Linked DNA regions of Homo sapiens. The protein of the gene in region 1 purifies or fractionates together with the protein of each later gene. This does not show direct contact. Each region holds a gene or a part of one and is shown in the gene's direction. Other genes may lie near its edges.

Region 1 (7,021 bases):
CCTGCAGGGAATGCAGGTAGCGGAAGCTAAGCAGATCAGAGTCCAAATGCCAGCTGTTATTTCCTGTGTAGCCTTAGCCTACTCACTTCGCCTCTCTGAGCCCCAGATTCCTCATCTCTCAGTGGATGGTAATATCCGCTTGCAGACATCAGTACAGGTAAAGGGCATCACAGAGTAGGTGCATGAGTGATGCCTGGTATTCTCATGCCACACTTGAGGCCCATCGAACAGTGTTTACATCCTGGGGAGTTTTATTAGAGCCAGTTCTAAGGTTTGCCATCCAAACCTTGAAGTGAGGCACTGGTCGCCTCTTTGTCTAAGTTTTTGCCCGCCCCCTGCCAGAATTGGGCAGAAGACTTAGAGCTGCTTACACAAAGCCACACATTTGGACTTTTAACTGAAGTGATGGAATCTTTAAGTATCTGCCACTCTCATTCAAGTCCTTGGCTTGATGATGCTCCTCAGTTTGGAAGAACCATCCCTAACCAGAAATGAACTAATCTAAGGACCCATCTATCTAGTAAACTGAATCAAAACTCTTCTCTGCCAGGACATCAAGGTGGATTTATTTGTGTGTGGGAATCATGCCCCTTGACACTTACCAACTTGATTCTTCCTCCTGGAACCTCATCCGCACCTGCTCTCCTTGACCTAAACCCCTCAACACACAAACACACATAGACACATACAAATATGTACATTACCTAGTTAGGGAAACAACCTTGCAAATGCTGCATAAGTCTAATATTTGTGGTTCTGAACATACGTGTGGTCTTTAAAATGAGATGTAGTGATATTTCCTGAGTGTTTGATATAGTTCTCTTACCTCTTCCAGGAAAAACAGAAGCCTATTTGGAAGCCATCAGAAAAAATATTGAATGGTTGAAGAAACATGACAAAAAGGGAAATAAAGAAGGTAGGACCAAGTGTGGTTGTACATTGCAAACTTCACCCATTTGTCAGGGGCTCTTGTTATATAAAAATTCCCACAGTCAAATTGACTGTGCTAAAGTCTCCCCGCAGAGCCCAAAAAAGACTGAAGTCACCTGTCAGATACAGAGGGGAACAGAACCTCCATTTCTCTTATTATTCAAATTAGCCTTTCAAGCAAAGGCGTTTTCTTTTCTTTTACGTTTTATTAGGAAAAATGTCAAGCAAACGTAGAACGAATAGCATAATGGATCCCTGTGTCTCCAGCACCCATCTTCAATAATTATCAAATGTTGCCAGTCTTGTTTTATCTAGCCCCCCTTTCTTGGAGTATTTTAAACAAAGGCATTTTCTGAGCACAAATTTTGTGCACCCTGCAGTCACAAAAGCAGTCACTCGCTTACATAAAGCAAAACACAGAACCAGGCCCTGTTCTAAGTGCCAGAGATGTCCCGCCCAAGGAATGCACAGCGTCATTAGAGCTATGGTTGGCCCTGCTCAGTGATGTCATGGATAGGTGTGTTACTGCCAAGGAGGTGAGAAGATGGGATGGATCTTCATACTAGGACAGAGACAGTTGAGAGAAGGGCCACAAGTCTTCTCTGGAAAGTTAAGGATGAATCTGCCGAGTGAGGAGAGATGGAGGCAGAGCGAACACTAGGTACCAAGACATAAAGGGACAAAACAGAGGGGTGGTTCTGGGAACTGGAGCCATTCATGTCCCCAGGAACAGTGGATGTTTGTGGAGAAGAGCAGCATATAGGGTTGGGAAGTGGGCAGTAGCCATGCCAGGAAGACATTTATGTACTCTTCAGAGAAGGTTGGTTTTAGCCAAGGGAGCCTAAATTGGGGCCTAATTAGGTTAAGAGCTGAGAAATCCATCTGGCAGCAGTGTGACTACAGATTGAAAAAATAAGACCCCAGAAGGCAGCAGAGAGATAAGGAGGTAAGACAGAGAGATCTGGAGCAGAAATATGGGGCTGTAAACCAGGGGACAACAGAGGAGATAAAAAGGAAGGGAGGAACTCAAGAGCCATGTGGAGAAGGAGGATTCTGACACGATTCCCAGGTATCTGGCCAGAGCAGTTGCAAAGTGATGCCTTCCTAAGAAACAAGTAATGCTTCTCAAACTTTAAAGTGCATCCAAATCACCTGGGGAACTTCTTAAATATCCCACTGCCCAGGCTGCACTGCAGCACCACTAAATCAGAAATTCTGGGGACACAGCTCTGGCATCAGTATTTTTTCAACTCCCCAGGTTATTCCAGCGTGCAGCCAAGTTTGCAAACCGCTGAGATACAGCACAGAGGGAGAAAGAGGTATTTTCAGCACCCTGGTAGCTTAGGTCTTCTAAGTTGAGTGATGATGGCAATAATTATCGATGTTCATGCATACTTTATTTGGTTCAAAATGATTTGAATTTCCAGGCTGTCAGTTACATTAAAATCTACATGAACCATATTTCATCGAATCTGTCATTGATTAAAAATGCACCATTGTTTTATGTGCCATTAAATTACAACATGCCATCAATGACTGCAAAGACTTTAAAATTAAAATGTTCATCTTAGAATCACTGTAGTACACTGTGTGCCAAAATACATCCCAAAGCCATGATAAATTGTATGGTACATCAATTTGGAGTATTTGTTACTGTTTTCACTGATTAGCATATGAATCAGACTCCTGGTCATAATCAACAACATCTTGCAATTCAATGTTCCCATTCCAGAAATGACCAACCTGGTGAAGCATAGAACTCTGGTGCTTGCATATGGAAGGCTCTGTTAGCAAACTGGCATTGGGTTCGATGCTCCCTTTTGTCTCTGGGAAATATGCAGTATGCCCTCTTGAAGACAGAAACAGAGCTCTTTCTCCACTGCTCTCATATGCGCTCGGCTTGACTTGGGGTCATCTTCTCAAAGCCTGTGGGGGATCTGGGTCCTAGGGTCATGCAGTGGCTGCAGCTGTATAAGCAGGGAGAATTACTATTAGTTCTGACCTTTCTTAACCATTGTTGCCACCCTTTGTTTGGTAAGGGACTGGGTGACCTGAATCCCCTTCCCAAACCCAGGAAAGGGAGGTCCATGTGATGTGATAGTGAGGATAATGAGAAAATCTTATGTAGCCTTAAAAAAATATGCTTTTAAAAAGCGAATCACAGCCCTTCTCTCCTTTGAGCCTTACAACCTTAAAACTTCTTTTAAGGTTAGCAAGATGGCTACTGGCTTATGTCTCCTAACCCCCAGCTAGGGCAGAGTTGGCATTAGACCAAAGGGCCTTTCCTTTGCACCATGCTGGTTTTCCCACTGCACACAGTAATAGCCGTGTCATAAAGATAACAATTTTTCCTTTTCAAAAGAAAGCAAAATATTTGCCTGTTTGTCCATTCAAATCACTGGACCTCTTCACATCTGTCTTTGGGAGTCTGCACTTTTTTTTTTTTTTGAGACAGAGTCTCGCTCTGTCGCCCAGGCTGGAGTGCAGTGGCACGGTCTCCGCTCACTGCGAGCTCCGCCTCCAGGGTTCACGCCATTCTCCTGCTTCGGCCTCCCAAGTAGTTGGGACTACAGGCACCCGCCACCATGCCTGGCTAATTTTTCTTATTTTTAGTTGACATGGGGTTTCACCGTGTTAGCCTGGATGGCCTCAATCTCGTGACCTCCTGATCCGCCTGCCTCGGCCTCCCAAAGTGTTGGGATTACAGGTGTGAGCCACCGCGCCCAGCAAGGCAGTGGTTTTCAAACTTTGATGCACATTAAAATCACTTAGCGGGAGTCTGCCTTTTATTCCATTAAAGATGTTGACACTGCAGCCTATTCTGCAGAGGCAGTATTAATGAACCAGGAATAAACAAGAAGTGCCCTTTGTGCCTTAGGGGTCAGGAATAAAGGAATCATCGCCTTAGGTGCGGTGCCTGCAAAATGTATGTTCAGCTTCGTTCTCTACTTCGTGCCTGAGAGAATGGGAAAAGTGAAAAACAAAAATAAAAATGAGCATTTATTGAACATTTGCTTTGTACCTGTTAGATGTTTTATAGTCAGTACTACAAGGCTATGGAATGGTCAATCAATGACCAGCATTCAGAACCTGACTCTACCACTACCTGAGCAAGTAACTTACCCCCTTTTCTGTTTCTTCATCTCTGAAATGAGGATACTAATGCTTACCCATGAGTGTGGAAAAAGCAACAATGTGCTTTCTCCTGTTCTCTCACTCAACACAACAATCAACACAGAAGACTTCTGTGACCAAATGCGTGGGGGTTTCTCCCCACCACCAAGCAAGCAATCAATTCTGCAGCCGACACTAGCTGGTTGTCCGCTGATTCAATTCAATTCCAACACTATCTACTTAGAGTCAGCCTCAGACACCACAGGGTGAGGGCGCAGTCCCAAAAGAGTGCCCCTTCCTTTGCACCAGTTGCATGTCCAGGCCTCTGGAACAGCTGGCTGACTGGCTTCAAGTTTCGGTTTCCACAGCCTCCTCTTAGGGTTCAGTTAATTTGCTAGAGTGGGCCTGGTATGGTAGCTCACACCTGTAATCCCAGCACTTTGGGAGGCCAAGGTGGGAGGATCACTTGAGGCCAGGAGTTTGAGACCAGCCTGGTCAACATAGCGAGACCCCATCTCCACAAAAAATTTAAAAATTAGCCAGGTGGGCCAGGCACAGTGGTTCACACCTGTAATCCCAGCACTTTGGGAGGCCGAGGTGGGTGGATCATGAGGTCAGGAGTTCGAGACCATCCTGGCCAATATGGTGAACCTCCATCTCTACTAAAAATACAAAAATTAGCTGGGCGTGGTGGCACGTGCCTGTAGTCCCAGCTGCTCAGGAGGCTGAGGCAGAAGAATGGCGTGAACCCGGGAGGTGGAGCTTGCAGTGAGCTGAGATCACGCCACTGCACTCCAGCCTGGGCAACGGTGCAAGACTCCGTCTCAAAAAAAAAAAAAAAATTAGCCAGGTGTGGTGGTGTGCGCTTGTAGTCCCAAGTTACTCAGGAGGCTGAAGCAGGAGGATCACTTGAGCCCAGAAGTCCAAGGCTACAGTGAGCCATGATCATACGACTGCATCCAGCCTGGGTAAAACAGTGAGACCCTGTCAAAAAAAAAGAAAAAAAGAAAAAAAAAGGATTGCTAGAATTCAGAGAAATGCATTTACTGGTTTATTAAAAGGATATTTTAAAGGATACAAATAAACAACTAGATGAAGAGATACATAGGGTGAAGTCTGGAACAGTCTGAAGTGCAGGAGCTTCCATCCTTGTGGAGCTGGGGTGCAACACCCTTCCAGCATGTGAATCAGTTTTTGTTCACCTTCCTGTCAGCCTCCACGTGTTCACCTATCTGGAAGCTCCTGAACCCTGTCCTCTTGGGCCTTTCATGGAGACTTCATTGGATAGGCATGATTGACAACCATGTAGGAATGTGATTGGACAAAAAGGACATGGTCTAAACCCAGTAAGGCCTATCTCTGCAGATTCTTCTTGGCCTCTCTGTGCAACATTCCTTCCTCCAGGGTACAGGGTAGGACCCTCTATGGATCAAGGGTGTTATGACCCACAATCAGATTAGAGTCCTGCCTTGGCTGGGTGAAAGGAGGGCAGGTCAGAGAGAAAGATTCTGCTTCCTGAGGCCTTCTTCTGAGGCCCAAAGTGCCCTAACATTATGACAAAAGGCTGAAACAAGGGATATGGGAGTTATAAGCCAGGAATCATGGACGAAAACCTATATAGATAGTTAGATGATGGATGGATGGATAGATAGATAGATAGACAGACAGACAGACAGACAGACAGACAGACAGACAGATGTCATAGGGTATAACCTCGTGGGGTTTTGTGGGGGGCAATTAAGGTGATGGCTGTAAAGTGTCCAGTGCTGGGATTTCCCTTTCAATCCTCATGGCTGTGCCCTAACAGGGAGCAGATGTCCTGCTTGCCAGAGAGGATATAAGCCCTGTCTAAGCCTCACTCACTTAGTGATTGTAGAGAGGTCCTTCATGGTTCGTTTTCCTTTCTCATAAGAGCTTAAGGATACCCAAGTGACCCAGGCTCAGATTACATTCAGGCTCGCTAAGGGTGGCTGCTAAACCACCCTTTTATACCCACTCTCTCCTTTCTCTTCTCCTCACCAACTAACAGAAAGCAGCGTTCTGTCTAGTCATTTACAGCTGTTATTGCCTAATACTTAAAGGATCAAGGGAAAATGGGGGTTTTTAAAAGGCTTCAGAAAGGTGTCATAGGCAGCCTCCTTACCTGGAAATCTTTATTTTTGGTGGGTGTTTTGACAATGTATATAGATTTTGTTTGTTTGTTTGTTTAAGGAGGACAGAGGAACCAAAAAGAGTTTACAGTTTGGCTTTTTGCTCCTTGCATACAATTCAAACAGCATGAAATAAAGTAACTCTTAATTTGAAAAAAAAAAGTGGGTTGTCACATCAACATGGACTTAAACCTAGTATAAGTCAGGAAGTCAGGAAGTCAGAACACCCGGTTCTGATCATAACTTTTACTACCTATGTGACCTTGAACAAGGCACTTAACCCCGAAGTGTGGTTCCTAGACCAACAGCATCAGTATCACCTGACAGCCGTTTAAAATGCATAACCTGGATCCTCACCCCAGACCTACTGAATATGAATCTGCCACTTCCCAATAGCCCCAGGTGTTTGGTATAAACATTAAAATTTGCAAAGCCCTGGTCATGAGCCTATTTCCTGTTTGGTCAAATGGGGATGGTATGACCCACCTGAACATCTCACAGGGTTGTGATGAAGCACAGATGAGATAATACATGTAAATATTATTTTATACTGCAAAGTACTACACAAATGCCAAGAATTAAAATGCCTCCCGATGTGAAAGATGGGGAATGGTAATTGTGTTATTGTATAAAATGCTTCTCAGTTAATGGTAATCACTGTAATGGGATTGGCCTTTCCTGATCTTTGCTCATTATGCTCTAATAATATTTTCCAGATTATGACCTTTCAAAGATGAGAGACTTCATCAATAAACAAGCTGATGCTTATGTGGAGAAAGGCATCCTTGACAAGGAAGAAGCCGAGGCCATCAAGCGCATTTATAGCA
Region 2 (7,769 bases), on another chromosome or scaffold:
TATTGGTAAGCTTAAATTCAGAGCAACCCCGTTAGTTCCTTTATCATTGTTCTCAACTGGAGTTGTTGTTTTGTGATTGGAAATATGTGGGGTTGTGCAACTAGCCACCAGGGAAGATGAATGCCCTGCAATTAGCCAAACAGTCCCGCAACATGGAGAATTGCTCCCCCTAAAATGTTTTCTCTCTGATATAAAGTTATAAGCGAAAGTCAAGAGCTTTTCAATTGCTGCATTACTAGTTGAATAAGACATCTGCATGCCTGGATAGTGCAAATTACCTATCTTTTTTTTTTTAAATCTCTGTGCCACTTATGAACATTGCAAAAGATATTGCTTACTTTCTGTATTGGGTCACACGACCTCTGCATAGTATTCCTCTTCAAAGGTACTGCAAATATCAGTTTTGATAGAAAAATATCAAAAGTAGCTCTCTGACCTAAGTGCTTCCCATTTATTCTACTTGCCTTATACCCCTTTCCTGGCCTGCCAGATGCTTTTAAGAACCTATTTTTGAGAACTGCCAAGTATTATTTTACCCATTTTACAGAAGAAAGTGAGACTTACAGAGATTAAGTCAATTGCTCCCTCAAGGTCACAGAGACAGCAGGTTCCAGAGGTGAGCTTCAAACCCAAGCATTCTGACTCCAAACTTCAGGTGCTTAACTGCTATGTCTGAGTTGTTATTTATATTATGTTTTTCAGTCATATTTGACTCCTTTTACATCATTGTGGAATGCATCCAAATGATTTTGGGATTACTTCTTCATCTTAAATGTCTGAAGCTGTACTCAATTCTCAGCCTAGATACTCGCTATATTAATATGAGTATGTCGCTTATCTTCTTTGTATCTATCACTAAAAGAAAGCAATTGTGCTAGAAATTTGCTCTCCAGTGTCTCTTGATATTAACTTTAATAATTCCATCAACAATATCTAGACCTTTTTATTCTCAAGACATATAATTTTCAATTATGCCATATCAAAACATAATTGATATGATTGCATAATATCTTTTTGTTACTATTTTAAAAAATTGTTTCCACCAGGAAGTGAAGGTAGGTGTCATAAGTGCTATCTGGCTTGGTGCAGTGGCTCATGCCTGTAATCCTAGCACTTTGGGAGGCCAAGGCAGGTAGATCGCTTGAGCTCAGGAGTTCAAGACCAGCCTGGGCAAGATGGTAAAACTTCATCTCTACAAAAAAAACCCACAAAAAATTAGCCTGGCATGGTGGCGCATGCCTGTAGTCTCAGCTACTTGTGGGGCTGAGGTGGGAGGATCACTTGAACCTGGGAGGCAGAGGTTTCAATGAGAGCCAAGATGGCACCACTGCACTCCAGCCTGGGGAAGACTGAGACCTTGTCTCAAAAAAAAAAAAAAAAAAGTGCTATCTGACAGGCTTTGGCCCATTGTAGTAATCTACAAGTCTACCAAATTTAGATCTTATATTGTAATATCTTCTTTCCCCTGATCCCCAAATTCCCTTCATAATTCTCATTATTTCATTGACAAAAGCCCAAGGATGAACAAATTGTTTTCTTTTGAGGTAAAACAAAACAGATCTAATAATTGCGTATGTTTATGCTTGATAATAATAATAATATATTTTATGAACATCCCTCCCAAGTCCCGATTGCACTGTTTTGATATTCAGTCACGGTATCTTTATTCATAGCCTGCCTTTAATGAGAATAGTAGAGGTCTTTGTGCATAAACACAAGAAGTACAGTGCTATTTTCATAGTGTTTAAGAAGTACTTATTATAAAATAATGTACTCTGTGTTTTATAAAAGGATCAAACAGTAAAGAAATATAAAAAATGAGAAGTTTCCCATTTCCTCTAAAATATCTGCTTTTGCTGAATCTCCTTCCCAAGAAGAATTAATAATTCTTCTGTAAGTGTTATGATATTTTGTTGTATGCAACATAATTTATATGAAAAATTAGCACACACCTCAAACTATATACCATTTATTGGATTTAAAGTGGCTATCATTTAATCATTTAAAAAGCTTTTTTTCTAAATACAGTTGTCTTTCTAAAATGTTTAAATTAGGGTTTTTGGTAGTATTATTATTGTTGAAAAGGTAATATGTGCCCATGATATAAAACTTGAACACAAAAGAGAATAAAATGTAAAGAAAATCACCTTTCCACTGCAGATCCATAGTCTCTATGACCAGAAGGATTTTTATACATATGAAATCATAAATATCTGTCTGAAAATAATGCAACATAGTATATATTCTTTTGAAAAAGTGGAAGCATGATGTATACGTTACTTTGCTTTGCTGTCTTAGATATTAGAGATCAATAGGCCAGGTGTGGTGGCTCATGCCTGTAATACCAGCACTTTGGGAGGCCAAGGCTGGTGGATCACTTGAGGCAAGGAGTTCGAGGCCAGCCTGGCCAACATGGTGAAACCCATCTCTACTAAAAATACAAAAATTAGCCAGACATGGTGGCTGCATCTGTAGTCCCAGCTACTTGGGAGGCTGAGGCAGAAGAATCTCTTGAAACCTGGAGGCAGAGGTTGCAGTGATTCGAAATGGCACCACTGCACTCCAGCCTGGGTAACAGAGCGAGACTCTGACATACCAGCACATCTCAATCTCTTCCTGCTTCTTGGCCATACTGTAGCCATCACAGAGTAGTATCATAACCAGTTAACCAGTCTTTTAAGAATGAATAATTAAGCCATTTTTCACTCTTTTGCTATTAAAAATAGTAACGTAGGTTTAAAAAGCATCCTTGCTCATCTCTGTACACATATTAAGAATATATCTAAAGGATAAATTCCTGCAAGTAAAATTTTCTACAAAAGAAATTGCTGAGTCATAGAAAGGGGATATTTTAAATCCTTGATACATATTAAGCTGCATCCAATAAAGTTTTCTCAGTTTAAGAGAGTAAAAAAGGCCTGATTTATAGCATTTGTATTGGGTGCTATCTTTTTTTTTTTTTTTTTTGAGATGGAGTCTCACTCTGTGGCCCAGGCTGTAGTGCAGTGACATGATCTCGGCTCACTGCAACCTCCGCCTCCTGGGTTCAAGCGATTCTCCTGTCTCAGGCTCCCAAGGAGCTGGGATTACAGGTGTGCACCACTACGCCCAGCTAAGTTTTGTGTTTTTTGTAGAGATGGGGTTTCACCCTGCTGGCCAGGCTGGTCTCGAACTCTTGACTTCAGGTGATTCGCCCACCTCGGCCTCCCAAAGTGCTGGGATTAATAGGCGTTAGCCAATGCACCCAGCCTAGTGCTGTCTTCTGAATGATTCTTTATTACAGTACACTAAATAAAATGTCTGTATTTATGCAACTCAGGGTTTGTCAGCAAATATTAGGAGGTAAAACTAATTGGAACTGTTTTAGACCCTTTTGGCCCCTAAATGCCATATCATATTACACAAAAATACCCACCTATAGTTATACATAAATATTGAGGTGAGTTGCAGTTGATGTTATATTTTTAAAAGAAAAATATTAATTAAATATGTATTAATATACATTAGTGTTTTGAAGTCTATCCATTTTTTCCCCCAGCCATACAAAGTTTGGTAGGATTCTAAAAGCTTGTAGGCCCTCAAGCACCACTCCTCTAGTGCTTAATGGGTTAAATGTCCCTAAAGCTAATTTGAAAAGCAAATTGCCTCATTCTTTCTCTTCATATCTTTCTTTCAAACTGTAAATTTTAAGAGCTGTTTATTCCTTATTCTCCTTGTTCTTAATTTGTTTAATAAAGTTTTAGATCTTTAGCGAATATTTTGCAACAACAGAAATATCCCCAAATTTCCTGGTGCTAGAAAACAGCCACAATAGTAAGTAGGTCAAGTCTGTATTGCTTAGGGAACAGGGAGATTTTTGTTTTAAAGCAGTGATTCTTCTGAGAGTAGGGCTCTGGGCGCAGGTGAGTGGTAAACAATCCTTTTTCCTGCAGGGATGTTGCTGTTGTGTAAAAGCAAAAGCATTTTGTGTAAGGATGTTAGGCTCCAGTAAGTATTTCAAAGCCACATTATCTTTCTCATTAGGGGGAGTTTCTCTCTGTACTTTAAAAGAAGATAATGATGCTTGAAAAAGCTCAAGATTGACTAACTTTTAGGAAGCTGCCAGAGTTGTGCATAGACGTCCTCACTACAGTAGCTTCGTTATGTCTTACGAACAATTTAACCTTCACTTCTAGTCATCGTTTCGTCATCGTAAGCACTGGGTCATTACAGAGTTCAGTGTACCTAAAACGCAAGCTGTGACTGATGAGAATCCAAGCTGCAAACTGGGCGGCTTGGGCAACTGTTTTCTTAACCACCCTCCACGTTGTGGCTTACGTCTTTTAGCACCGCCCTCAGGGCAAAGGATGGTGGTCAGAGGTAACTACCACAGTAAAAGAAGGCTATTTATGTGGTCTGTTTACAGTTACCCGGTTTCAACACTAAGCCAGCTTTCCGCCACGTCTCGGGCGAACCTCCGGCCTGAGGTCACAGAGACGCCCGGGTGGCTCTCAGGAGCCAGCATGGCAGCCTCCTCAGGACGGGTACTCAGGAATTTCGCCCGCAGGGACTAACACCACTTGGACCCAGGGACTCCAGCTTCACTCCGCTTTGTGCACTGGGTGGGGCGGTCGCGGTGACGTTTCAGGCAACGCCTCTGCTGTCAGCCAATAAGGAGCGGGAGACGCGTCGGGCCTGCGCTCAATGGGCCGCGCTGGTCCCGCCCCACTGTGATCGTGAGACTGCAGACCCGCTAATAAAATCCACCCCAACAATCGCTGTGTGCCGCTTTAGTGCGCTCGCCGTCGGCTCTACCTGCGTGCTTTAGCTCCTTCTCGCCTGATCCTTCTGTCTCTCCCAACCCCGGACACCCGGCTTCGACTGGTTATATCTTCGGTGTTCTTTTCCTCTCTTCTTCTTTCGCGGTTCAGCATGCAGGAAAAAGACGCCTCCTCACAAGGTTTCCTGCCACACTTCCAACATTTCGCCACGCAGGCGATCCATGTGGGCCAGGATCCAGAGCAATGGACCTCCAGGGCTGTAGTGCCCCCCATCTCACTGTCCACCACGTTCAAGCAAGGGGCGCCTGGCCAGCACTCGGTGAGCTGGGTCTGTCTGGGGCTGTCCACAGTTGGGCGGTAAAAGAGATACGGCTTATGAATTTGAAAGGCATGTAAGTAATTTATAATATGACTTATAAATTAGGAAGGCAACCGAAAGATGTTTCTACACTGTAATTCTTGCAGCACAGCTTTGTATCGGATGGTCCAGTGATCGTATTTCTTTTGATAAGCAGGACTGGAAGGAGCCGTTTGTCCAGCTTGCCATTTAGATTTGGCCTGAAATTCAGGTGATTTTGACAAATTTGCAATTAAAAATCGAAGGTCATAACTTTTTTGAGTTACCTTTAGCAGCATAAATTTTAAAGATGTAGTACGGAGTCAGCTTAAAAAATATTAAGGGTCTGATAACTTGACTAGAATTAAGATTGTTTCCAGTAGCTGTATGAATAGTTATTGAGTACCTACTATATGCCAAATACGTGCTCGTATATATCATGTGTATTACATGTATTGTCTCATCTAATCCTAACAACAACCCTAGTCTGAACCGAATTCTCATTTTTTCCCAATAAAGAAGCTGAGATTTAGGGAGTTAAGTAACTAGCCTTAGACTAGTAAGTATTGGAGATGGAATTCAAACTTTAGAAACTTGAGGTTGCTTTAGGAACCAACTCCTAGGCACTCAGCTACACTATGCTATCTCTAATAATGCTAGTAACAATTTAGCCTATTGCGTCATTTAAGCACTGTGGCTTAGTGATTAAGAACACAACTCATGACCGGGTGCAGTGGCTTACGCCTGTAATCCCAGCACTTTGGGAGGCTGAGGCGGGTGGATCACCTGAGGACAGGAGTTCGAGCCCAGCCTGGCCAACATGGTGAAACCCCATCTCTACTAAAAATAAATAAATTAGCTGGGCATGGTGGCGGGTAATCTCAGCTACTCGGGAAGCTGAGGCAGGAGAATCGCTTGAACCCAGGAGGCAGAGGTTGCAGTGAGCCAAGATCTCACCATTGTGCTCCAGCCTGGGTGACAAGAGTGAAACTCCAACTCAAACAACAACAGAAAAAGAGAACACAAATCTTATAGTCAAAGGCTAGGTTTGCATTCTGACACCACTTCTTCTGAGCTGGGGGACCTTGGGCAAGTTAGTTAACCTATCAAAACCTCTGACTGATCCTGTATAAATGGGGATAATAATAGTATCTACCACATAAGTTGTTGAGATGTATTTAAGGCTGTATAGTACATAATAATTACTCGATGGTAATTTGTTTTTTCATGATGTTCACATTTACACTATTTCCATTTGATCCTCACAACAACCAGGTCAGAAGGCAGGACAGGTATTATGTACTTTTTATAGAAAAGGAACTGACACAGAGTCATACATGAATGATCTGTAAAGCCTACGAAGGAGCCCTCTTTGTTAATCACATAGCTTTTTTCCCCCTTTTGGTGGCATACTTGATGGATCTTAGAGAATTTAAAAGTTGCTGAGATTTGTAAGAATTAGTTAAAGTCTGTAAGTCCAAAGCCTTGATTATGCTTTGGAAACCACTTCAGTGTGTTATATAAGTTGAGGAAAATCCTTACAGACAGTCCCTTGTTTTGTGAGATACAGTTCTAAGGCCATTTCTACAACTGGTTTAGAATACTCTTTACTGTATTTTAGAATCAAAATATGTACACAGCCTCTCTTTCTTTCTTTCTTTTTTTTTTTTTTTTATTTTTCAGAGAGAGTCTTACTCTGTCACCCAGGCTGGAGTGCAGTGGTGCGATCTCGGCTCACTGCAACCTCCGCCTCCCGGGTTCAAGCGATTCTCCGGCCTCAGCCTCCTAAGTAGCTGGGATTACAGGCGCCTGCCACTGCGCCTGACTCATTTTTTATTTTTTTTAGTAGAGACGGGGTTTCACCATGTTGGCCAGGCTGCTCTTGAACTCCTGACCTCGTGATTCACCCGCCTTGGCCTCCCAAAGTGCTGGGATTACAGGTGTGAGCCACGGCGCCCGGCTCACAGCCTCTCTTTCAAACATGCAGTTCGTTTCTTGTGTAGGGTTTAATGAAAGTGTAGCTGCCCAAGCTTTGGAACTTAGTGCAAAAGTTTACCATTCAGGTGTGATATTAATAATTAAATGTTTCCAGGAAGCCAGCAGGGATGGTTAAATCCACAAAAACTCTGCTTAATATCTTTTTTTTTTTTTTTTTTTTGAGACAGAGTCTTGCTCTCTTGCCCAGGCTGGAGTGCAGTGGTGCGATCTTGGCCCACTGCATCCTCCACCTCCTGGGTTCAAGTAATTCTCCTACCTCAGCTTCCCGAGTAGCTGAGATTACAGCTGCCCGCCACCATGCCCAGCTAATTTATTTATTTTTAGTAGAGACGGGGTTTCACCATGTTGGCCAGGCTGGTCTTGAAATCCTGACCTCAGGTGATTCACCTCTGAAAGTGCTGGGATTACAGGCATGAGCCACCGCGCCCGGCCCTTTTTAAAAATCAGCTAAGACCACTAAAGGGAATTTGAAGAGCTGAATGAGAAACGGGAGGTACCTTTCTGTGGCAGAAGCCACGTGAATCCAAACTTTTTTTTTTTTAATCTGCAGGGTACAGCTGCAGGTCATGGTAAGAAGGTGATGGTGGGGAGGGGTAAGGATATCCTGGAGCCCTATAAAATATGTCTGCTCAGGTTGGGCGCGGTGGCTCACGCCTGTAATCCCAGCACTTTCG

Evidence for each region. Proteins that work in one complex are often made in the same cells at the same time.
Region 2: the proteins of SCG3 (region 1) and CTH purify together in Homo sapiens (affinity purification with mass spectrometry; 2 studies listed by BioGRID and IntAct, with this or other methods). This does not show direct contact.

Annotation. Positions count from the first base shown.
Region 1 is NC_000015.10:51,712,498-51,719,518, forward strand, and holds part of SCG3 (secretogranin-3 isoform 1 precursor), read left to right. Parts: intron 1-835; coding exon 836-916; intron 917-6,910; coding exon 6,911-7,021. UniProt on the Homo sapiens protein: Member of the granin protein family that regulates the biogenesis of secretory granules. Acts as a sorting receptor for intragranular proteins including chromogranin A/CHGA. May also play a role in angiogenesis.
Region 2 is NC_000001.11:70,406,505-70,414,273, forward strand, and holds the start of CTH (cystathionine gamma-lyase), read left to right. Parts: upstream 1-4,763; 5' UTR 4,764-4,911; coding exon 4,912-5,079; intron 5,080-7,769. UniProt on the Homo sapiens protein: Catalyzes the last step in the trans-sulfuration pathway from L-methionine to L-cysteine in a pyridoxal-5'-phosphate (PLP)-dependent manner, which consists on cleaving the L,L-cystathionine molecule into L-cysteine, ammonia and 2-oxobutanoate.